Homo sapiens: one gene and its partners. The protein of the gene in region 1 purifies or fractionates together with the protein of each later gene. This does not show direct contact. Each region holds a gene or a part of one and is shown in the gene's direction. Other genes may lie near its edges. The genes, in order: NTRK3, ACAD10, SLC39A11, TMEM192, C1GALT1, COCH and SH3BP4.

What was found.
Region 2: the proteins of NTRK3 (region 1) and ACAD10 purify together in Homo sapiens (affinity purification with mass spectrometry; 2 studies listed by BioGRID and IntAct, with this or other methods). This does not show direct contact.
Region 3: the proteins of NTRK3 (region 1) and SLC39A11 purify together in Homo sapiens (affinity purification with mass spectrometry; 2 studies listed by BioGRID and IntAct, with this or other methods). This does not show direct contact.
Region 4: the proteins of NTRK3 (region 1) and TMEM192 purify together in Homo sapiens (affinity purification with mass spectrometry; 2 studies listed by BioGRID and IntAct, with this or other methods). This does not show direct contact.
Region 5: the proteins of NTRK3 (region 1) and C1GALT1 purify together in Homo sapiens (affinity purification with mass spectrometry; one large-scale study listed by BioGRID and IntAct). This does not show direct contact.
Region 6: the proteins of NTRK3 (region 1) and COCH purify together in Homo sapiens (affinity purification with mass spectrometry; one large-scale study listed by BioGRID and IntAct). This does not show direct contact.
Region 7: the proteins of NTRK3 (region 1) and SH3BP4 purify together in Homo sapiens (affinity purification with mass spectrometry; 2 studies listed by BioGRID and IntAct, with this or other methods). This does not show direct contact.

What each region holds. Positions count from the first base shown.
Region 1 is NC_000015.10:87,879,240-87,882,739, reverse strand, and holds part of NTRK3 (NT-3 growth factor receptor isoform a precursor), read left to right. Parts: intron 1-2,311; coding exon 2,312-2,470; intron 2,471-3,500. UniProt on the Homo sapiens protein: Receptor tyrosine kinase involved in nervous system and probably heart development.
Region 2 is NC_000012.12:111,754,826-111,757,599, forward strand, and holds the end of ACAD10 (acyl-CoA dehydrogenase family member 10), read left to right. Parts: intron 1-842; coding exon 843-920; intron 921-1,507; coding exon 1,508-1,648; 3' UTR 1,649-2,274; downstream 2,275-2,774.
Region 3 is NC_000017.11:72,648,689-72,652,188, reverse strand, and holds part of SLC39A11 (zinc transporter ZIP11), read left to right. Parts: intron 1-2,920; coding exon 2,921-3,019; intron 3,020-3,227; coding exon 3,228-3,386; intron 3,387-3,500. UniProt on the Homo sapiens protein: Zinc importer that regulates cytosolic zinc concentrations either via zinc influx from the extracellular compartment or efflux from intracellular organelles such as Golgi apparatus. May transport copper ions as well.
Region 4 is NC_000004.12:165,095,861-165,099,360, reverse strand, and holds part of TMEM192 (transmembrane protein 192), read left to right. Parts: intron 1-3,500.
Region 5 is NC_000007.14:7,185,544-7,189,043, forward strand, and holds part of C1GALT1 (glycoprotein-N-acetylgalactosamine 3-beta-galactosyltransferase 1), read left to right. Parts: intron 1-3,500. UniProt on the Homo sapiens protein: Glycosyltransferase that generates the core 1 O-glycan Gal-beta1-3GalNAc-alpha1-Ser/Thr (T antigen), which is a precursor for many extended O-glycans in glycoproteins.
Region 6 is NC_000014.9:30,884,559-30,887,838, forward strand, and holds part of COCH (cochlin isoform b precursor), read left to right. Parts: coding exon 1-98; exon of another isoform or gene 99-116; intron 117-426; coding exon of another isoform or gene 427-483; intron 484-835; coding exon 836-1,062; exon of another isoform or gene 1,063-1,237; coding exon 1,238-1,754; exon of another isoform or gene 1,755-1,768; intron 1,769-3,280. UniProt on the Homo sapiens protein: Plays a role in the control of cell shape and motility in the trabecular meshwork.
Region 7 is NC_000002.12:235,039,017-235,042,516, forward strand, and holds part of SH3BP4 (SH3 domain-binding protein 4), read left to right. Parts: intron 1-1,871; coding exon 1,872-3,500. UniProt on the Homo sapiens protein: May function in transferrin receptor internalization at the plasma membrane through a cargo-specific control of clathrin-mediated endocytosis.

The sequences.
Region 1 (3,500 bases):
AAGCATATTTAAATTTAAAGTGTTAATCTCAACAATTAATCACTGTAAGCTTCTTTTTTCCTTTCTATAACATACAGCCTTTATCAGGCTTTTAATTATTTCTATATCTACTCTTCTATGCATTTATGGTTGAAATTATTGGAAAGTTTCATTCCAGATAAGTATGTTAGTTGTATCAGTGGTAGTACTAATAGCATTATTAGTATTATTATTTACTTTATGTCTCTATTTTACAGGAAGCCTTTATTAGTAATTGTATTACTTTTACTACCAAATTAACAACCATTATTCAAATTTAAATTGCATTTTTGTGGCTTATTTGCTCTGCATTTTTTGTTATGTTCCAATAATTGCATAGCTTGGGTTATTTTTACTGTTTTTCTAGAATATGTATTCAATTAGCTTGGCTCCTATATTTTCTGAAAGGATGTGAGTGGTAAGCTTTCTGAGTCTTTGCTTGTCTGAAAGAAGTATCTTCAGTTTTCTTTACACTGGATACAAAACTATCCTGATTAGAAAGTCCCAGGTTGAAAATAACTTTTCTGGCTAGGCAAAGTGGCTCACGCCTGTAATCCCAGCACTTTGGGAGGCCAAGGTGGGTGTATAACTTGTGGTCAGGAGTTTGAGACCAGCCTGACCAATGCGGTGAAACCCCGTCTCTACTGAAAATACAAAAATTAGCCAGGCATGGTGTTTCATGCCTATAATCCCAGCTACTCAGGAGGCTAAGGCAGGGGAATCGCTTGAACCCAGGAAGCGGAGGTTGCAGTGAGCGGAGATCGCGCCACTGCACTCCAGCCTGGGCAGCAGGAGTGAAACTCTGTCTCAGAAAAAAGAAAGAAAAGAAAAGAACTGCTCTGCAAACTTGTATTATAATTTACCTCCTAAAATTCTTCAAGTGGTTAAGGCAAACATGATTTCCCTTTTTGGAAACAAGATTGCCCATCTCCCAACTTATTCGTTCTTAATTATTCATTGTTATTATTTCTCTAACTGACCCCCCATAGAAATAAGAACTTTAGGCCGGGCGCGGTGGCTCAAGCCTGTAATCCCAGCACTTTGGGAGGCCGAGGCAGGCGGATCACGAGGTCAGAAGATCGAGACCATCCTGACTAACACAGTGAAACCCCGTCTCTACTAAAAATACAAAAAATTAGCCGGGTGTGGCAGCGGGCACCTGTAGTCCCAGCTACTCGGGAGGCTGAGGCAGGAGAATGGCGTGAACCCGGGAGGTGGAGCTGGCAGTAAGCCGAGATCGCGCCACTGCACTCCAGCTTGGGTGACAAAGCGAGACTCCGTCTCAAAATAAATAAATAAATAAATAAATAAATAAGAAAGAAGGAAATGAGAACTTTAAGTAATACCTCATCCGGACATAAATAGACAACTCTTTTTTCAATATTAAGTAGTTTTTTTAACAATGAGTTCCATGTATTAGGCAAAAGTTTCAGTTCCTGAAAATCTATTTACTAATGATGCAGTTAGTTCCTGAGTTTTCACACATGCTGTGAATTTTCTCCCACTTATGCTAACATCTCTAGCCTGCTGGGCAAAGAGGAGTTCCCTAATGTTTTTCTCAGTAAAGGGTACCCTGGGTGTTTATCCTTGTCAGTCACTTCCTTTTCCCCTTGGCTTTCAGTTTGGCAGATTCACAGGTGGTTGATATCCTCCTTAGGCTATTTTTAAAGACTCTCCCTACTGTCCTTTGAGATCTTACTAAGAACTGTGGTGAATTCTCTTTCTGTCCATCTCCTACCTTATTAGCACGTGGTCTTCCACGCTTTTGGAATGTCTCTGTCTCCTTCACTTGAAACACTGAGTCCTAAATTGTGGTGAGAGATTCGAGATTGTCAGTTAGAAGCTAAAGTTCTGCAGATCAGATGCACATGGAATATACTGTGCCACTGCAGCCAAGAATCTAACCTGATGTTTGCAGATACTGATCCTTGGTGACTGGCTTAGTCATTCTGCTGACTTCTTGCTGGACTTGCTCTTAAGGTTAGATTTTTCTGTAGTGCTAGATTCTGAAACCTTCTCTCTCACTTCAGATTACCTTGATCTTTCTACACACTGAGTGCCAAGGAACCTACCTTCCCTCAGGTGTTACCTCTAGTTGCTAGTCTAGCTGTCTCCTTTATCGTAGGTCTCCAAAGTCAGCATCTTCACACACCTCTGATAGAAGTTGCATAAAGCTGTGACTATCTTAGAATAGGATGCATCAAGAGTGCATCTATGTGTGAAGAGTGCAGACAGATAACACTCATTCTGGCCATCTGGTCACTCTGTGTGCCTCTATCTCAACCCCTTTTAGGTGGGAGGACACACCATGCTCCCCATTCGCTGGATGCCTCCTGAAAGCATCATGTACCGGAAGTTCACTACAGAGAGTGATGTATGGAGCTTCGGGGTGATCCTCTGGGAGATCTTCACCTATGGAAAGCAGCCATGGTTCCAACTCTCAAACACGGAGGTAAAAAGGGGGTGCGTAGGAATCTTGATTGGGGGAGGGCTCATAAGAGCTATCTCAGCCCAGAACTTGGACCTACTGAACAAGACATTAGGTGGGATTTAGAGCCAGCAGAGTGAATGCAGGCATTAGTGGGAGCAGAGAGCTTCTTAGTAGGAAAAAAAAAATGGAACTGTAGGAAATGTGGTGTAATTGTCAAAAGAGCATGAAATCAGAGGTCTAAATTGAGACTCAAGTCATGCCTCTGTTAAATCTGCTACCCTTAAAAATCACAAATGTTTCACTATGACAAAAAAGGAAAACAGAACAGCTATGAGTTTTTCAATTGTGCCATCTTGTGGAAACACCCACTACTTAGTATGCCCACATAATCTGGGTGCACAAAGGTTTTAGGTATGCCAAGCCCAGGGATGTACCAGATGGTCAATTTGGGAAGACCAGTTTTATAACTGGTAGAGTCATGTGTGAACGTCTAGGAATAAAATAAACCGTGTTTATTTTATTACTATGTTTTTACTATGTTTATTAGTATGTTTACTGTTAAACTTAGTAATAAATAGCCATTATATTTTTTATAATTGTAATTTGCAATAATAAAAAATGCTAGTAAACATAAATTAATAGTAGCTGACATTTAGTGGTAGGCACTTTTCTAAGCATGTTAGCTCTATTAATTCAGTAATTTTTGCAAAAACACCTGTTGAGATTCAGGTTAAAGGAAGGGGGTCTGCTTGAGGTACTGAAATGGGCTGGCCAGGGTCTCACAGGTAAGAGCCTCCAAAGCAGGGACAAAGCCTGGGCTGTAATCCTAGGACTCCTCTGCCTCCAAAGCCCATCAAGATGCTTCTCAGTGATGCATGGACCATGCCATGTTGCCCCAGGGAATTCAGTGCAGTTTGTAGGCAGTAAGGAGCTCAGTCTTTCAACCCAGTCGACCTATGAAACATCCCTATGAAACATCGCAATTCTTTTTATGGTCTTCTGTTTGCTGGGAAAATGTAAACACAAGACCCTTTTGGTATTGAAATCTTAT
Region 2 (2,774 bases), on another chromosome or scaffold:
CCTTCAGTGTGTGCTGGCTGTGTTCCCCGTCATCTGGGAAGACAGCCACATTCTGCCAGCACTTGCTTCGCATCTTGTGACATAAGATAATAGTTGCCAACATGGCGCCCTTCATCCCTGGGTGCTGTCAAGCCGTACACCAGGCAGGGGCAGCCTCACCCAGCTCACATCAGCGAGACCTTGGGGCCTCTGTTTTGGACGGTGGTGTTTGACTTCTTGCTGGGAATCTGATCATTCTTCCAGGCTTTCTGCCTTCGGGTCTTTTTTGTGGTTTAGTTTTTCGTTTTGTTTTTGAGAGACAGAGTCTCACTCGGTGGCCCAGGCTGGAGTAGAGTGGCACAATCTTGGCTCACTGCAACCTCCGCCTCCCGGGTTCAAGCAGCTCTCTTGCCTCAGTTTCCCAAGTAGCTGGGACTACAGGTGTGCACCATCACGCCCAGCTAATTTTTGTATTTTTTAGTAGAGACTGGGTTTCACTATATGTTGGCCAGGTTGGTCTCAAACTCCTGACCTCAGGTGATCTGCCCGCCTCGGCCTCCCAAAGTGCTGGAATCACAGGCCTGAACCACCGCGCCTGGCCTGTTGTTTGTTTTTGAGAGGGGGTCTCACTCTGTTGTCCAGGCTTGAGTGCAGTGTTGCAATCTCAGCTTACCACAGCCCCCAACTTCCCAGACTCAAACAATCCTCTCACCTCAGCCTCCTGAGTAGCTGGGACTACAAGCACATGCTACCACACCCTGCTAGTTTTTGTATTTTTAGTAGAGATGGGGGACGGGGGGGCCTCACTCTGCCACCCAGGCTGCCCTCGGGTCTTTTATGATCGCATCTCCTCCTCCTTACAGGCTGCAGCCTTGGATATAGCCATGATTAAAATGGTCGCCCCGTCCATGGCCTCCCGAGTGATTGATCGTGCGATTCAGGTGAGCACAGACCAGACAGTTGGCTTATTTGAACCATCAATACTAGATGCCAAACTCTCCTATCTTCAGCCGCCCAGCCTCCCATAGACCCTGGCAGATGCCCTGTGTCACCCACTCACCATGCATGCAACTTTCCTTTTCCTCTTCAGAATGACCCAGCAAGGTGGGAGGTGCCATCGTACCCCCATTTTGAATGTGAGGAAACAGGCACAGAAAAGTGAAGTGACTTGTCCAGGTCACTGAGCTTGCAAGTAGCTGACCTCAAATTCACATGAACTTGGGTTTTCATAAGCCCAGAGCCCAGGCTCTTTCCCATGCAGGGGGGCCGCCTCCTTAGATCCTAACCCCCGGCCCCAGCACAGGGCAGAAGGCACCTGCAGAGTGGGCCTGGGGAGTCTGGAGGCCGTGGGATGGCAGGTGTGGCCCCATGGAAGCCCTCTGGAATATTAGTGATTGTATCACATAGGTGCCACAGGGAAGTCCGGGAAGATGGTTGTTATGGGCCATCAAGAGCAGGCTATCATTCCTGGGGCTCTCGGAGACAAGGGCTGACCCAGGGCCGCCTCCCTCCACTCTGTGTCTGCCAGGCCTTTGGAGCAGCAGGCCTGAGCAGCGACTACCCACTGGCTCAGTTCTTCACCTGGGCCCGAGCCCTGCGCTTTGCCGACGGCCCTGACGAGGTGCACCGGGCCACGGTGGCCAAGCTAGAGCTGAAGCACCGCATTTAGAGCCTTGGGGCTGCAGTGGCTCAATGTCCTGGCTGGTCCAGCTGTGCCCAGATCTGTCACTGATGTGCCTCGAAAGATCCGGTGTTTGTGGCTCCTGCACCCTGCTCAGCAGCTCTGTCCCGGGACAGTCAGGGTGGACTCAATCTTTCTGGTTCTCCACAGAAGACGTCTCTGCAAGAAGCCTGGAGTCTGTTTCAGGCCAGGAGGAGGGGATTTGCTGAGGGCCAAGGGGGTTCTGGGACAGAGTCTGGAAAGCTGGTCTTCAGGCTCTCAGTCCCAGGCTGGGCAGGCACGGTCACTTCACTTCAGCCTTTCAGTCCCTCTCTCTCTGCCTGTGGGAATCTGGACACATTTTGGGAGGCCTCCCAAGGCTGTGGGACGTGCTTGCTCTGGCAGCTGCAGGGTTCCTGTCTGGCCTCCCTGGTGAGCAGAGGGGCGGCCACGGCGGGCGGTGGCCTAGAGACCCAGGACCTGGGCGCCTGGGAAAATGGAATGCAACCCACATTGTAAAGCCACTGGCATCTGATTATCTCCATTTGAACACACAGCACAGAACAATCATTTAAATGTTATTTTGGAAAGGGGTTTTGGGGACACAGAAGAATAAGTAAACACATCTCGGAGGCTTTGTGGACTTTCTGTGTCATACAAAGAGAATCGAGTGGAGAGGTTCCCTTCAGCGCCTTCATGCCTCCTCCTGCCTGTGTTTCCTCGAGGTCCAGGCCATCATCTCAGCCCCATACATGCTGGGAGCACAGAGGCCACGGGTCCGATAAGTCCCGAGTTGGCTGCCTTCCCTCACTATGTAGCCCGGGGCTCTGTGCTCATACATACTTTACCCAGGAGCTGGCATGTGAGGCCCCTGCAGCCTCCACCTGCTCCATAGTCAGAATATCTGGGCGAAGGGGAGGTGGTGGCCCATTCGCCATTACACTTTGGAGCACAATCTCTCTTCTCTGAGGAGAGTGGAAATGCTTACTCACTTGCAGTCTGAGCTCCTTGAGAAACCCAGCGACATGCAGAGGTGAGCCAGGGGCAGTGAGGCCCCAGCCTGCTCGTCTCATAACTCGTGGTGGGGTAGCCAAAACTCGTCTCAGGTTAGACCAGACGGGCAGGAACCATCCCC
Region 3 (3,500 bases), on another chromosome or scaffold:
CTGGCCCCCCACTCATTTGTGTAGATAAAGTTTTATTGGAACACAGCCACACTCAATGGTTTATGTACTGTCCATAGCCACTTTTGCACCTGCAATGTCAGAGTTGAGTGGTTGCAACAGAGACTCAGTGGACTGCAAAACCTCAAATATTTACTATCTGGCCCATGACAGAAAAAGTTTGCTGCCCCCTAGATCCAGGGATGAAGTTGGAGCATGTTTGAGCCCCTCTCTAAGGAGTCAAAGGAGAGCACAAACTTGGGTGATATAGACAGGGATTTGGGTAGACTCGTGGGAAATGCTGAGTGATGCAGCTTTTGTGGACATGTCCTGGGCTGGTGTGGTGGGGTGTCTTCTTGTCTGTCCACTCCACTTCATGAACAGTTCTGCCTGCAGGTTGGAGAGACAGGCTCAATGCTTCTGTCAGTCCCAAGAGACCATAATATTTCCTTTATTAAGGAACTGATCAGTTTTCGGATGCTATCACTTTTCAGATGCCCCCTGGGGAAGCTGCTTTGTCCCTCTTCACAGTTTCCCACCCCCAGCCAGTCTAGGCCCCACAGCTCCTAAGTCAGCTCAGGGCTTCTTCCCCCAACCCCACCCTAGGGGGACCATCCCTGCCACGGGGTGCTCACTATTCTCCATCACTTCTGTTACATATCCATGTCCCCTAATGCCACCTGTTTTGTTACTCCTGTCCTGTGTTGCTCCGGATCTCCTCCAGAGCTCTCCACATCAGATCTTGTATACAGTAAGCACCCTGGGCTGCAGGCTCCTGATGCATTCAGTAGTGGCCACAGGTGTCCTCGGCTCCCAGCCTGTGTTGGGAATTGGGATAGCAGGGAAGGGGCTCCTGGGAGGGGGGTGGGCTTGACTGCTTTCCTCATCCTCACCTCCCATGATGCCTGCTTAGGCCAGTGGCTCTCAACGCTGTTGCACACAGGGGCAGATTTTAAGCTGATGGGTAGATGCTGAGGGGCTCATTGTAATCTTGTCAAAAAGGGATGGGCACTAATTCTATGAACCACATGTGAGCTAAGTGGTGACAGGTATGAGATTCTGTTAGGGCTGGACTTTTCCTAAGAGTCTACTTGACTGGCAGACTCGAGGTGGGGGCTACTTCTTCCTGAGGTATCTGGAACTACGAACCTCAATGAAACATGTGCAGGAGTTGGGGGATAAAGGTAAAAAAAACAGGGTAAAGGCCAAACCCTGAAACAAAATGGAGGTCAGATGCTAAACTGGGGATTCGCCTTGGTGTTCTTTGTTAGAGGCTGGAACTTGGGCCTCAGCCGGATCAGGCCTGACAGGACCTTCAGGGCCACGAGTGTGTCCCAGTCCCGGGAGCCTGGGGCAGGTCATAGGCAGGGGTCCCAGCTACCAGTCTACAACACTCCCTTGCAGCAATGGGTAGATTCCTATTGGCAGCAAGATGGATGGACGTGAGCCAGTTGACCTGAAAGTCGGTGATGGTGGAGTTTCTCTTCTCTATCTAATCTACCCACAATTCCCTCGGGCCACACACCAGCATTGCTTGCCGAGTGGCACCCTCTTCTCACGCCCTTTAGATCATTGTTGATCAGATGGCCCTTCATGGAGGGGCTGCTTCTTGGAACTGTCCGGCCAAGGTAGAGTCTCACGTGCAAAAGGGCCTTCCTAAGGCACTCGGACTGGCCCCATTTCCCTCCTCTGCTTCCCTCATGCCTCTGTTTCCTGTGCAAGTTGACTTTTGGCTGATTTGCTGTAGTTTGCAGCATCCACAATAAGGGTTCTTCATGTACATGCCTGTGTTGTCTCCATGGCTAAATACTAAGCCCCCTGAGGCCAGGCATGTGGTCACAGATTGCATTTGTACGCATCCCATTTTGCTTCTCCCTCCTCTCACACTCCAATGCCTGGTTTGTGCAGAAAGCAGCTTCTCAAAGACAGGCATCTATCAGCACAGCCTGTCACTGTCCTGCAGAGGCAGGAGGTGAGAGGATCACTGTGAGCACCACTGGGGCCCAAAGAAATGCAGCGATGGTGCCAGACCTGCAGAGCCCACGGAGAAGCTGAGCCCAGAGCCAGATCTGTGGCACCATCAGCGTCTGCAGCTGCACTTCCTTGTCCCATTTCTGAAGTGGCCTCTGAATAAAATGTGATATACTCATTTCTGTGCTGTAACAGAATAGAAACCAAAATGCATTAAGCACCTCTCTATGCTAGGATGTGATAGGCATTATTGGGTCACTGGGTCACTCAGCAATCCTTTATGGTAGATATTGTTGTCCCTAAATTGTATACAAGAAACAGAGGTGTAGGCTGGGTGCCGTGGCTCACGCCCATAATCCCAGCACTTTGGGAGGCCAAGGCAGGCAGATCACTTGAGGTCAGGAGTTGGAGACCAGCCTGGCCAACATGGTAAAACCCCATCTCTACTAAAAATACAAAAATTAGCTGGAAATCACTTGAACCCGGGAGGTGGAGGTTGCAGTGAGCCGAGATCATGCCACTGCACTCCAGCCTGGAGTCTCCAGAGCGAGACTCCATCTCAAAAAAAAAAAAAAAGAAAAAGAAAAAAAGAAAAAGAAACAGAGGCGTAGAAAGTAAAATGAAAAGTGCAGTTATACAGCCACGTGGCAGAACTCAGGGCACCCTGAGAGCCAGCCAGTGTGTTCTGTGCTGTAGCAAAGCATTGTAAGGACAGAGCCTGCCCAGGACCCAGGACAGCATGATGGGTAGAGGGCTCACGTCACTCCCTCCTGCAGCCCCTGCTCTTTACCTAGACACACGTCCTGACCTTTCTCCTTCCTCTCCTACTGCAGGTCACAGGTCTCCTCCTGGCTTCCTAGCACCCACGGAGGTCTTGGCCTCGGCCAGGGACTCCCATTGTGTGAGCACCTATTCCAGACAGCAGCCTTCATGTGCTTTCTTGGTTTTTCAGGAATTTGGCCATTGGAATCGGGATCCAGAATTTCCCCGAGGGCCTGGCTGTCAGCCTTCCCTTGCGAGGGGCAGGCTTCTCCACCTGGAGAGCTTTCTGGTGAGTGCTGCCCAAGGGCAAGGCCATGTCACAGCATCCTCCATGTGGGCTTCTTTCAACAAAACAGTGATGTGCTTTTGCACTGCCATGCTCAGATATGACGTAGAATGGCATGCATCCATGTGCTAGGGTTGAGCCAACAGTCTGGGCACGTGGAGTGTCTGCTTGCCTCCCCCTGCGGTGGTAAATGTCTCTGTTCTCTCCTTAGGTATGGGCAGCTGAGCGGCATGGTGGAGCCCCTGGCCGGGGTCTTTGGTGCCTTTGCCGTGGTGCTGGCTGAGCCCATCCTGCCCTACGCTCTGGCCTTTGCTGCCGGTGCCATGGTCTACGTGGTCATGGACGACATCATCCCCGAAGCCCAGATCAGGTTGGAGAACCTTCCCTCCCTGTCTGTCCCTGTCCCAGTCCCAGCTGGGACCCCAGCCTTGGGATATGCTCTTTCTTCATTTGCCTTTCCTTTCCTTATTCCCTCCCCCTCTCT
Region 4 (3,500 bases), on another chromosome or scaffold:
TAATCCCAGCACTTTGGGAGGCTGAGGTGGGCAGATCCCTTGAGGTCAGGAGTTTGAGACCAGCCTGGGCAACATGGAGAAACCCCTCTCTACTAAAAACACAAAAATTAGCCAAGTGTGGTGGTGTGCCCCTGTGGTCCCAGCTACTCTGGAAGCTGAGGTGGGAGAATTGCTTGAGCCGAGATCATGCCACTGCACTCCAGACTCCAGCCTGGGTGACAGAGTGAGACCCCATCTCAAAAAAAAAAAAAAAAAAAAGAAAGAAAAAAAGTTGTAGTAAATAACTTAGTTTCTACCTTTTAAAAAGATCCTGTTTTTCAATTTGAGTCCAGAATAAATCTTAAAAATTTTTGAATCCAGGCCAGGCTCGGTGGCTCATGCCTGTAATCCCAGCACTTTGGGAGGCCGAAGCGGAAGGATCACCTGACGTCAGGAGTTCGAGACCAGCCTGGCCAACATGGTGAAACCTCATCTCTACTAAAAATACAAACGAAAATTAGCCGGGTGTGGTGGCACGCGCCTGTAGTCCCAGCTACTTGGGAGGCTGAGGCAGGAGAATCGCTTGAACCTGGGAGGCAGAGGTTACAGTGAGCCGAAGTCATGCCGCTGCACTCCAGCCTGGGCAACAAGAGCGGAACACTGCCTCAAAAGAAAAAAAAACTTGAATCCATATGTAGTCTTCCTACTTGGAGGAGGCAGCGAGAAAAAGAAAAAGAAGGAAAAAGAAAAAAAAATTTTTTTTGAATCCAGGCTGGGCATGGTGGCTCATGCCTATAATCACAGAGCTTTGGGAGGCCAAGGTAGGAGGATTGCTTGAGGCCAGGAGTTCGAGACCAGCCTGGGCAACATAGTGAGTTCCCCCATCTCTACCAAAAATGAGAAATTTAGTGCTGTAACAAATGAGCACCAAGTTAAGTTTTAAAAAAAAAAAGAAATTCCTGGGCGTGGTGGCTCACGCCTATAATCCCAGCACTTTGGGAGGCCGAGGCGGGTAGATTCCCTGAGGTCAGGAGTTCGAGACCAGCCTGGCCAACATGGTGAAACCCTGTCTCTACTAAAAATACAAAAATTAGCTGAACGTGGTGGCGGGCAACTGTAATCCCAGCTACTCGGGAGGCTGAGGCAGGAGAATTGCTTGAATCCGGGAGGCAGAGGTTGCAGTGAGCTGCAATCATACCATTGCACTGCAGCCTGGGTGACAAGAGCGAAACTCTGTCTAAAAAAAAAATTAAGGCCGGGCACGGTGGCTCATGCCTGTAATGCTAGCATCTCAGCACTTTGGTAGGCTGAGGCGGGAGGATCACTTGAGGTCAGGAGTTTGAGACCAGCCTGGTCAACATGATGAAACCCCATCTCTACTAAAAATACAAAAATTAGCTGGGTGTGATGGCAGGTGGCTGTAATTCCAGCTACTCAGGAGGCTGAGAATCGCTTGAACCCGGGAGATCAAGATTGCAGTAAGCTGAGATCGTGCCACTCCAACCTGGGTGACAGAGTGAGACTCGATCTCTAAATAAATAAATAAATCTCTATTTCAAAATAAATAAATAAATAAGTAAAATAAAATAAAATAAATAAATTAGTCATGTGTGGTAGCCTGTGCCTGTAGTCCTAGCTACTTGGGAGGCTGAGGTGGGAGGATCCACTTGAGCCCAGGAGTTTGAGGCTGCAGTGAGCTATGATTATGCACCACACTCCAGCCTAGGTGAAAGAGTGACACCCCCCTCTATAAAAAAAGAAAAAAAAATTGGATCAAATTAGAGATTTTTTTCTCCAAAAAAAAAAAAAAAAGGCTCCACAGAATTTAACTTTTATTTTTCTTCTGTTCTGTTAGTGCATTTTCTTTTTTCTTTTTTTTTTTTTTTTTGAGATGGAGTCTCGCTCTGTCACCCAGGCTGGAGTGCAGTGGCGCTATCTCGGCTCACTGCAAGCTCCGCCTCCCGGGTTCAGGCCATTCTCCTGCCTCAGCCTCCCGAGTAGCTGGGACTGCATTCGCCCGCCACCACGCCTGGCTAATTTTTTGTATTTTTAGTAGAGACGGGGTTTCACCGTGTTAGCCAGGATGGTCTCGATCTCCTGACCTTGTGATCCGCCGGCCTCGGCCTCCCAAAGTGCTGGGATTACAGGCATGAGCCACCGCGCCCGGCCTGTTAGTGCATTTTCTTAAAGGGCATGCTGCAAGTTCATCTACTCAGTGAAATTCTCAGTGGAAGCTGAAGGGCTATGCTATATCAGCGTGAAGCAGTTTATAGAGTTGGGTGATCCTGACTGCTCTTGAAGGGGAAGCATTTATTGCTCCCTGCCTCTTGTGAGAATGAGCTTGAGAATGTTCAACTGTTGATGTGCAGCTCTCTCTTTTGGCCAGAAGATGTCAGGGTAACACAAAGATTAAAAAAAAAGAAAAAACTTAATTTTAAACTACAAAAGATCTTATATGATCTGTGACCAAAATAATACTCAGTTTCTCAAGTGATGGTCTGGAAATAGTATTTTGGAAGCTCACAAGGAGATTATTTGATCTTTACCTTTCCAAAATCTGCCTTTCAAATTTTTGTTAAACATGTGAGCCGTAATCATAATCTATTTCTGAACACTTGGACCTTTAGAATCACAGGTGATATCACGTTTATGTGGCTCATGTGAAAACCCAGAAAATCAAACGGAATGGAGCAGGTACTTACCTTATTTCTATTTTTTAAAATATTTTTTCTTATTTGCAAAAAAAAAAAAAGATAAATCTATGGAGATGTAGGATGTAGGACTTACAGATAACAGTACTGATAATATTAACTTCAGCCTGATATATTTTGTTATTTTCCAGAGAAGAAAAAAAATTATTTACCTTTGGGTGGAGATGGGAGAAAGGGCTTTGCTTTCCTACCAAGTGAAAATATTTACCTGATTAATCTGTTCTCCTTCCTTAGATCCAAATACATATATATATATATAATTTTTTTTTTGAGAGTCTTGCTCTGTTGTCCAGGCTGGAGTGCAGTGGTATGAACTCAGCTAACTGCAACCTCTGCCTCCCAGGTTCAACTGATTCTCCTGCCTCAGCCTCTCCAGGCTAGACTACAGGCACGCACCACCACACACAGCTAATTTTTATATTTTTAGTAGAGACGAGGCTTCACCATGTTGGCCAGGCTGGTCTCGAACTCCTAACCTCAGGTGATCCGCTCCCCTTGGCCTCCCATAGTGCTGGCATTACAGGCATGAGCCACTGCGCCCGGCCTAATAATATTTGAGTTCAAAATGTATTTGGGCCAGGTGCAGTGGCTCACGCCTGTAACACCAGCACTTTGGGAGGTCGAGGCAGGCAGATCACCTGATGTCAGGAGTCCAAGACAGGCCTGGCCAACATGGTGAAACCCTGTCTGTACTAAAAATACAAAAAAAAAAAAAAAAAATTAGCTGGGCATGACTGGGGTGGTGGTGGGCGCCTATAATCCCAGCTACTCAGGAGGCTGAGGCAGGAGAATTGCTTGAACCTGGGAGGT
Region 5 (3,500 bases), on another chromosome or scaffold:
CTGCCAATCCTTAGCATTTTTTGGCTTGCAGCTATGTCACTCCAGTCTGTGACTCTGTTATCACAACATAATCCCTGTGTGGCTCTGTCTTCAGATGGTGTGCTCCACTTCTTGCAAGGATACTAGTCGTATTGGATTAAGATCCACCCTAATCACCTCATCTTAACTTGATTACATCTGCAAAGACCCTATTTTGAAATAAGGTCACGTGCAGAGGTACTGGAATTAGGACTTCAACCTATCTTTTGTGGGGACACAGTTTAACCTGTAACAGTTGCACGGTTTATCTTTTACATCGTTCAGTAAATGTTTAGCATTATAGACTGAATCAGAGGCTATAGTGGAAACAGGATGGGACACTTACATTTATTTACATATATCAGTGATGTCTTAATCTGTTTTCTGTTGCCTCTAGCAGAATATCTGAAACTGGATAATCTATAAAGAAAAGAAATTTATTCCTTACAGTTAGGAAGGCTGAAAAGTCCTGGTTCAGGGGGCCACATCTGGTGAGGGCATTTGCTGGTAGGGACTCTGCAGAGTCCTGAGGATAGCACAGGGCACCACATGGTGAGGGGGCCGAGCATGCTAGCCCAGAACTCTTTCTTTCTTTCTTTCTTTCTTGTAAAGCTACCAGTTCCTTTCCCATGATAACCCATTCATGAGGGCTGAACCCTTAGTACCCAGTCACCATTTAAAGACTCCAGCTCTCAATACTGCCACAGTGGTGATTAAGGTTCAACATGAGTTTTGGAGGAGACAAACATTCAGACCACAGCAAGTGCTTACTATGTGCCAGGTCCTGGAGATAAAACAGTGGATAGGCAAAAATCTCTGTCCTCATGGAGCTTACATTCTGAAACACGGGTTCTAAAAATGTGGTCCCTGGATCTGCAGCATCATCATCACCTGGGAAGTTGTTAGAAATTGAAATTTTCAGGCTCCATCCCAGAACTCTTTATTTAACTAGCCTTCCAAATGATTCTGATGGAGACTCAGGTTTCAGAACCACTGATCAAGATGGAAAAGAGACAGTAAACAAGATGAATAAGTAAAATAATATTTGATATTAATAGGTGCTGTGGGTAAGCATAGGGTGGCCAGTGAAGACTCCTGAAAAGTAAAGACCTGAAGGAGTTGGAGAGTGAGCCATATGAGCACCTGGGTGCGTGTTCTTAGCAGAGAACAGTTAAGTGTGAAGACCCTGGCACGTTTGAGGAATGACAAGCAGTTAGTATTAGGTTCAATCTATGAAATTGCTGCTGTTTGTTCATTTTTGACCTACAAAAACACCAAATACTGGGGAGAAGAGATCAGAAAGAAAGGGGTGGAGTAGGATGCAGATTGTGGGTAGATCCTTGTAAGGTTTTGGCTCTCTAAGATTAGGAAGACGGGAGGGTTTTGAGCAAATGAGTGATGTGATCTGATTTCAGTTTTAAAAGGATCATTGTGGCTATTGGTAAAAATGGGCCAAAGAAGCAAAGGCTAAAGGAAGGGGAAAGTTGGTTAGAATGTTGTTGGAGTAGTTAAAAGACAGAGAGGTTGCTCAGACCAGGGTGATAGCAGTGGAGAAGTCAGAAGAGGTACAAGACTAAAAACGCACAGTAAATGGTTTGAAAAGTAAGTTTTTTTCATCCCACTCCAGTTACCCAGTTGTCCTCCTCAAAGGCAATTAGTGTTAAAAGTAGTCTTATCTCTATTCTTCCTGAGATTTTTTTTTTTTTGAGACGGAGTCTCACTCTGTCGCCCAGGCTGGAGTGCAGTGGCGCGATCTCAGCTCACTGCAAGCTCTGCCTCCTGGGTTCACGCCATTCTCCTGCCTCAGCCTCCCCAGTAGCTGGGACTACAGGCACCTGCCACCATGCCCAGCTAATTTCTTTTTTTTTTTGTATTTTTAGTAGAGACAGGGGAGATCTTTTATGTAAATGTGAGAAACAGTTTTAACAAATTAGTGGAGAGGTTGTTACCTGGAAACATTTAGCAATGTCTACAGACATTTTTGTTTGTCACAACTAGGGGGAATACTACTGGCATCTAGTGAGTAAAGGCCAGGGATGCTGGCTAAATATCCTACAGAGGACCGGACGGCTTCCACAACAGAGAGTTATCCAGCTCTTAATGTCAGTAGCGCCAAGGTTAAGAAACCTTAGTTTAATGGGATTTACAGAGGTTGGTGGGAAGCAAGTGTTGTAGTCAGAGAAGACAGTAGGAAGAGGAGCTGACCATATTGGGAACCTTTCAGTAACTGTAGACAGTTCAGGATTGCTGAAGCAGACATAAATTATAAGGCACAGAATAGCAAAAGACGAGGCTGGAAACCTGGACAGGCTCTAGGTCATAGCCTTTATTTATATATCATGTTAATAAAAAATGTTTAGTTTTTGTCTTGTAGGCAGTGGAGTTCCGTGAAAGGATTCATGGGGTGACATGGTCAGCTTTTCATTTTAGAGAGCTCATTCTGGTGACGGGGTATGAGTTAAAGAGGGATAGCACTTGAGTCAGAGAGGTTAGATATTGTAATAGCCTGTGGGGAGAGAGGAGAGTCTGAAATAGGATAAATACTAGAAATGGAGAGGAGACAATGGATTAGAATAATATTTAGGAAGTAATGTTGGCAAGACTTGGTAATTGGATTTGGGGTGAAGATAAGGGAAGCATTAAGAATATCTGTGTACTTTGTAGTTTAGATAATCCTGTGGCTCTGAGTGAAATAGGAACCCATTGGTGAATAATTTAGGTAATTACCAGTAATTAAGGTAAAATGAGCAGAGGAAAGTAATGAGTCACTTTGGAGGTGTTGAATTAGAGATGCCTATGGTCCAGGTGGAAGTATTTAGCAGGCATTTGTGTATGTGAATCTGAAACTTGGAGAAGTCTGAAAGGATCAAGAGATCATTTTGTTTGACAAGTGTGGAGAAATTAGTGGACTTTAATTTTTATCATATTATTTCACTCTGTAGATAAAAATTGCCTCCCTTTATTTAATTTTTATCAGAAAAGTAATGTGTGTACCCGATGCAAAATTAAAACATCAAAAGGTTATAAAATAAAAAAAAATTTGTCCTTCCTTGCTCATGCCACCCAGTGCTAGTTCCCAGAGATAGCTCTTGTTAAATATCATATGTATATATATCTTAACAGATTTTAAAATATATACAGAAACATTTAAAAAGCCAAGTGAAATCATACTAGAAAATATTTCGGTACATTGTCTTAAAAAATAAACCTTTTATCTTATACAGTTGTTAAAATGAATGACATTGTGTTATGGATAAAATAAGTGAAGGGGTAAATTAAAGTGCAGACTAACCGATAAGCATGATCTCTGATGTAAATTAAAAGCTGAACATACATATGTGATGATATAGGCATTACCCAACGATACGAAAGCAGTTACTTTTGGGGAGAGATAGTGGTAGAGATGGTAAAGAAAATTTACTCTTTTCTGTCTATGATTTTCTTTCATTTGTTTAGGTTTGTTCCTTTTGTTTTCTTTACAT
Region 6 (3,280 bases), on another chromosome or scaffold:
TCCCAAAATAGAATTTTACTTGAAAAACTTTACATCAGCCAAAGATGTTTTGTTTGCCATAAAGGAAGTAGGTTTCAGAGGGGGTAATTCCAATACAGGTAAGTAGACTTTGATACCTGGGATGTAACATAGGAGAGGGTTATCAGTGATCAGACATGTAAAACAGTATTATGCTATTTTATATGAGCAGATGTGAAATCCTCCTGGAACTGAAATCTTGGCTAGGTCTGCATTTGATCATCTGAGATAAATTTTCAATTTATAATGGAAGTATACCAAAGTGTTGATATTTCTTATTTTAAAAAATATAAAGCATGGTGATTTAGAATTCTCATACATTGGATTGACTAGATATAACATTGGAGAAGTATCTCTTTGTAATGCTAAAAAGAAGTGAAAATCAACAGACTTATCTAATGAATGCAGATGTGGCAGAAAGAATGAGTAGCACTACCGTTGACTCTGAAGAGAGACTTCTTAGAGGTACTAATCAGTCACCAAAGGGCTACATAGAGAGCACATGCATGGAAGTGGGAATCAGTTTTGTGTTTCTAACTGGCGATTGATGTGGGGTAAACAAATGTGAGGCTTCTAGGAGGTGGAGGGGGAACTAATATGGCTTGTGAAGATAAATAGGCCTGGTAGATAATTAAACTTTCCCAGCTGATGCATCTGTTACAGAACTGGGTTCTATATAATTCTTTTTTGTGTGCCCCGCCCCACTGCCAGTTCTATATATAATTCTTAAACTTTGCAGCATCAAATGCTACAGGGAAACAGAAATGTGGTTTGAGCAGTGGTAAAGGCTATTTGTTTGCTTCTTTTTCAAATTTAGGAAAAGCCTTGAAGCATACTGCTCAGAAATTCTTCACGGTAGATGCTGGAGTAAGAAAAGGGATCCCCAAAGTGGTGGTGGTATTTATTGATGGTTGGCCTTCTGATGACATCGAGGAAGCAGGCATTGTGGCCAGAGAGTTTGGTGTCAATGTATTTATAGTTTCTGTGGCCAAGCCTATCCCTGAAGAACTGGGGATGGTTCAGGATGTCACATTTGTTGACAAGGTAAAGTGGTGAGGGTTATCTTCTGTTACAGTGATGGGTATTCCATTTTGGACCTCTAAGTGCAGTGCTGACTGCCTCTTATCTAGATTAACTTGAAACATTCAGGATTTTCCAGTTTTTAAGAAGAAACAACTTTTGATCCTTTTGGATATCTTTTATGTGTCTCCCCCATTAGGCTGTCTGTCGGAATAATGGCTTCTTCTCTTACCACATGCCCAACTGGTTTGGCACCACAAAATACGTAAAGCCTCTGGTACAGAAGCTGTGCACTCATGAACAAATGATGTGCAGCAAGACCTGTTATAACTCAGTGAACATTGCCTTTCTAATTGATGGCTCCAGCAGTGTTGGAGATAGCAATTTCCGCCTCATGCTTGAATTTGTTTCCAACATAGCCAAGACTTTTGAAATCTCGGACATTGGTGCCAAGATAGCTGCTGTACAGTTTACTTATGATCAGCGCACGGAGTTCAGTTTCACTGACTATAGCACCAAAGAGAATGTCCTAGCTGTCATCAGAAACATCCGCTATATGAGTGGTGGAACAGCTACTGGTGATGCCATTTCCTTCACTGTTAGAAATGTGTTTGGCCCTATAAGGGAGAGCCCCAACAAGAACTTCCTAGTAATTGTCACAGATGGGCAGTCCTATGATGATGTCCAAGGCCCTGCAGCTGCTGCACATGATGCAGGTAAGGTCCTTGTTCTTTATAGGAGAAGGGAACAGAAAAAACGGTTCAGTGAATTTAGGAGTAAATAAAAATTTAAGCATTTATTTCATTAAACAAACACCTGTGGCTTTACCCAATATTAACTGTTAAAGCAGCCCTACTCATCTCATTCTACAGATAAGGAAGCAAACTTCCTGGAAATGACATTTCTAGTAAGTGGCAAGGCCAAGATCCAAACCCAGGCATTCTGGCTCCAGAGTGCACATTCCTAACCACTGTATTGTTGGGAGAATTGCCATGAGAACCATGTCACATTAAGGAAATATGCTTATACATATACAATTAAGGTGCTCATATTTAGCTCAAACTTGGACTATATCTCCAAATAGCCAGCTTATAACCTACCATGAATCTGCCATTCAGTAATTTATCCTAACTTTCTTGTGTATGAAACAGGTAATTGCTCTGTCACCAGGCTGGAGTGCAGTGGCATGTAGTGAGCTACAACCTCCAACTATTGGGCTCAAGCAATCCTCCTGTGTCAGCCTTCCAAATAGCTAGGACGACAGGCACATGCCACTGCCCCTGGCTAATTTTTAAATTTTTTTGGGGAGAGACGGGGGTCTCACTTTGTTGCCCAGGCTGATCTCAAACTCCTGGGCTCAAGCAATCCTCACACCTTGGCCTCCCAAAGTGCTGGGATTACAGGCATAAGCCACCACACCCAACCCTAACTTTTATTTTAGTCAAGTTTTGTCTGGCATGAGTTTCCTAAGATAAGGTCTCCCATAGACTTTACCTATCCCATCAAAATTTCCTTGGCCAGGTGCAGTGGCTCACATCTGTAATTCAGCACTTTGGGAGGCTGAGGTGGGCGGGATCACCTGAGGTCAGGAGTTCAAGACCAGCCGGGCCAACATGGTAAAACCCAGTCTCTATTAAAAATACAAAAATTAGCTGGGTGTGGTAACATACACCTGTAATCCCAGCTACTCAGGAGGCTGAGGCACGAGAATCACTTGAACCCAGGAGGCAGAGGTTGCAATGAACTGAGATCGTGCCATTGTACTCCAGCCTGGGCGACAGAGTGAGACTCTGTCTCAAAAAGAAAAAAAAAAAAAAAAAAAAACTTTTTCCCCCCCGCTTAAGATAATAAAAACACACTCTGGTGTTATAAAAGGGTATAAGAAGGGTTTCTTTCTTCCTCACCCCAGCCTTAATATTACTTTTGGCACAGGCCTCGTTCCTGAAGACATTAACGTAATGTGTTAGAGATCAAATAGGCCAACAAAAAGCTAAGATTCCCTTTCTGAGGATATAACTGAGTGACAGGAGGGAAGAATCAATGGACTTGTTTTTTTTAACACTCTTCTGTACCTCATTTTCCCTACTTAATTCCTAATGACATAACCTTTTTCCTTTCTACACATTAGTACCTCTGCCAATGTACTCACATATTTTTACAGATACTGATGAAAGATTATTCTTAAAACAGAGAACACATGCAATTTAAGTTCCACATCTAGCTTGTAAAAAGTATTTTTTAT
Region 7 (3,500 bases), on another chromosome or scaffold:
TGCATTTTGTCCTCTCCAAAGCTCATTGAGGAAATACACTTTTTGTCCACCATGAGTGGAGTCTTAGGCTCTGGAGATCACACAGTTTCTAAGGGCTCCACTCGAGTCTGGGTTTAGTGATCCCAGAGCCGGGTTCTCTGAGACACCCAGATAGACGGGCCTGCTGTAATTTCACAGGAGGAGGTAGGTGGGGCTTCAAGGCCCAGGGATGCTCCCAGCTAAGCGCATCTCTGTAACCCAGTTAATGTAAATGAATAGAAACTGTCTACCTGATTTCCTAACACTTTCCCAAGGAAGTGTGATTATTTCCTTTCAAAGGAAAAGGAAACTGGCAGGTGATTTTCTGGGGTCGGGGGGGCAATTTGATAGAATACGATGACTGTGGACTTCATCACATTAGAAAAGATGTAGGTTTAGTTTAACTAAAAACGGATTCCTTTCTTTGGTCATTTGCTTTGGCAACTTAAAAAAAAAAAAGAAAGAAAGAAAGAAAGAAACGTTTCCTTTCTTTCTTTCAATTGTTTATTACGGGAAGCCAGAATGTCAGCAGACTCCGTAAGTGAGGCAGTTTGGGAGGTGGGGGAGGGGAGTCCTGGGGAGAAGTATATGTGCTTATTTTCTTCAGAAAGAGTGTTCTTCATCTTCTGAATATATCTTCTCATTTAATCATATCCATTATTTTTCAAAACACACCACTTGTTTGGCTGACTTATTTTTGCTGTTTCATTTGCCGTCTACATTGGTAACATACAGAGTTCAATGGCAGGAGCCATGAATTAACTTGATTCACTTTTTGAAGGGTTGGAATTTTTCAGACTGCTTCAACACTTGTTCAATGATAGTATGAGCTATGACTAGGCATAATCTCTCATTTTCAAGGTATGTAGACAGTCTGTTTTCATGTTGTGATTTTGAATGATAATTTAAAAGAGGTTGGGCCAGGCGCAGTGGCTCACACCAGTAATCCCATCATTTTGGGAGGCTGAGGCGGGAGGATCACTTGAGGTCAGGAGTTTGAGACCAGCCTGGTCAACATGATGAAACCCCATTTCTACTAAAAATACAAAAATTAGCCAGGCATGGTGGCACACACCTGTAATCTCAGCTACTTTGGAGGCTGAGGCAGGAGAATCACTTGAATCTGAGCGGCTGAGGTTGCAGTGAGCTGAGATCATGTCAATACATGCCAGCCTGGGTGGCGGAGTGAGACACTGTCTCATAAATAAATAAATAAATAAGTAAAATAAGAATAAAAGAGGTTGGAAGGAACTGACTTCAGAATTCTTACTTTATCTGAGGAAACAGTTTGGTGAGGAACAGGTTGAGTTTGGAAATTTAAGAAGCAGGTTGAGGGAAGCTTTCCATCCAGAGGCAGAGCTTGGAATCAGCTCATACATGTCATTGCGGGAGTTTTTGGAATCTGTTCATTTCCAGTCCCTGATCACATGCAGTGGTCACCTAACTCACCGTGTCACCGTGTTTTCTAAGTTAATCACATTCAGTTTCTCTTTGTATCTAGTAGCAGTTCTTTTAAGAAGAATTTTAACGTTGCCCAAAATGAGATGTTTAGGGCGTAGGGCATGTTAAATATTCCATTGCACTGATTTGCCTTTCTGTGAGTGATGGAGAGGCTCCTCTGTGGTCTTTCTGCCGGACATAGGCTGTCGATTTTGAAGGTGACCAAGTAGCAGGAACCAGTTCGTTGGCCAGGTAAATTACCTACTGAATTTCACTTTGGTTTGTTTCTGTTGGTGACTTGCCTGGGTTATTGTGCACCTGTCTGTTTACCACCGTCCTCTCTCCTTTGGGAAGCTCTCCGGACACCCCGCCGGCCTTGCCCTCACCATCTGTTTTCTTTGTGTTTTGCACAGTGCCTTCTCCCAGTGCCTTGCTCGTAGACAACCCCACACCTTTCGGAAATGCAAAGGAAGTGATTGCGATCAAGGACTATTGCCCCACCAACTTCACCACACTGAAGTTCTCCAAGGGCGACCATCTCTACGTCTTGGACACATCTGGCGGTGAGTGGTGGTACGCACACAACACCACCGAAATGGGCTACATCCCCTCCTCCTATGTGCAGCCCTTGAACTACCGGAACTCAACACTGAGTGACAGCGGTATGATTGATAATCTTCCAGACAGCCCAGACGAGGTAGCCAAGGAGCTGGAGCTGCTCGGGGGATGGACAGATGACAAAAAAGTACCAGGCAGAATGTACAGTAATAACCCTTTCTGGAATGGGGTCCAGACCAATCCATTTCTGAATGGGAACGTGCCCGTCATGCCCAGCCTGGATGAGCTGAATCCCAAAAGTACTGTGGATTTGCTCCTTTTTGACGCAGGTACATCCTCCTTCACCGAATCCAGCTCAGCCACCACGAATAGCACTGGCAACATCTTCGATGAGCTTCCAGTCACAAACGGACTCCACGCAGAGCCGCCGGTCAGGCGGGACAACCCCTTCTTCAGAAGCAAGCGCTCCTACAGTCTCTCGGAACTCTCCGTCCTCCAAGCCAAGTCCGATGCTCCCACATCGTCGAGTTTCTTCACCGGCTTGAAATCACCTGCCCCCGAGCAATTTCAGAGCCGGGAGGATTTTCGAACTGCCTGGCTAAACCACAGGAAGCTGGCCCGGTCTTGCCACGACCTGGACTTGCTTGGCCAAAGCCCTGGTTGGGGCCAGACCCAAGCCGTGGAGACAAACATCGTGTGCAAGCTGGATAGCTCCGGGGGTGCTGTCCAGCTTCCTGACACCAGCATCAGCATCCACGTGCCCGAGGGCCACGTCGCCCCTGGGGAGACCCAGCAGATCTCCATGAAAGCCCTGCTGGACCCCCCGCTGGAGCTCAACAGTGACAGGTCCTGCAGCATCAGCCCTGTGCTGGAGGTCAAGCTGAGCAACCTGGAGGTGAAAACCTCTATCATCTTGGAGATGAAAGTGTCAGCCGAGATAAAAAATGACCTTTTTAGCAAAAGCACAGTGGGCCTCCAGTGCCTGAGGAGCGACTCGAAGGAAGGGCCATATGTCTCCGTCCCGCTCAACTGCAGCTGTGGGGACACGGTCCAGGCACAGCTGCACAACCTGGAGCCCTGTATGTACGTGGCTGTCGTGGCCCATGGCCCAAGCATCCTCTACCCTTCCACCGTGTGGGACTTCATCAATAAAAAAGTCACAGTGGGTCTCTACGGCCCTAAACACATCCACCCATCCTTCAAGACGGTAGTGACCATTTTTGGGCATGACTGTGCCCCAAAGACGCTCCTGGTCAGCGAGGTCACACGCCAGGCACCCAACCCTGCCCCGGTGGCCCTGCAGCTGTGGGGGAAGCACCAGTTCGTTTTGTCCAGGCCCCAGGATCTCAAGGTCTGTATGTTTTCCAATATGACGAATTACGAGGTCAAAGCCAGCGAGCAGGCCAAAGTGGTGCGAGGATTCCAGCTGAAGCTGGGCAAGGTGAGCCGCCTGATCTTCCCCATCACCTCCCAGAACCCCAACG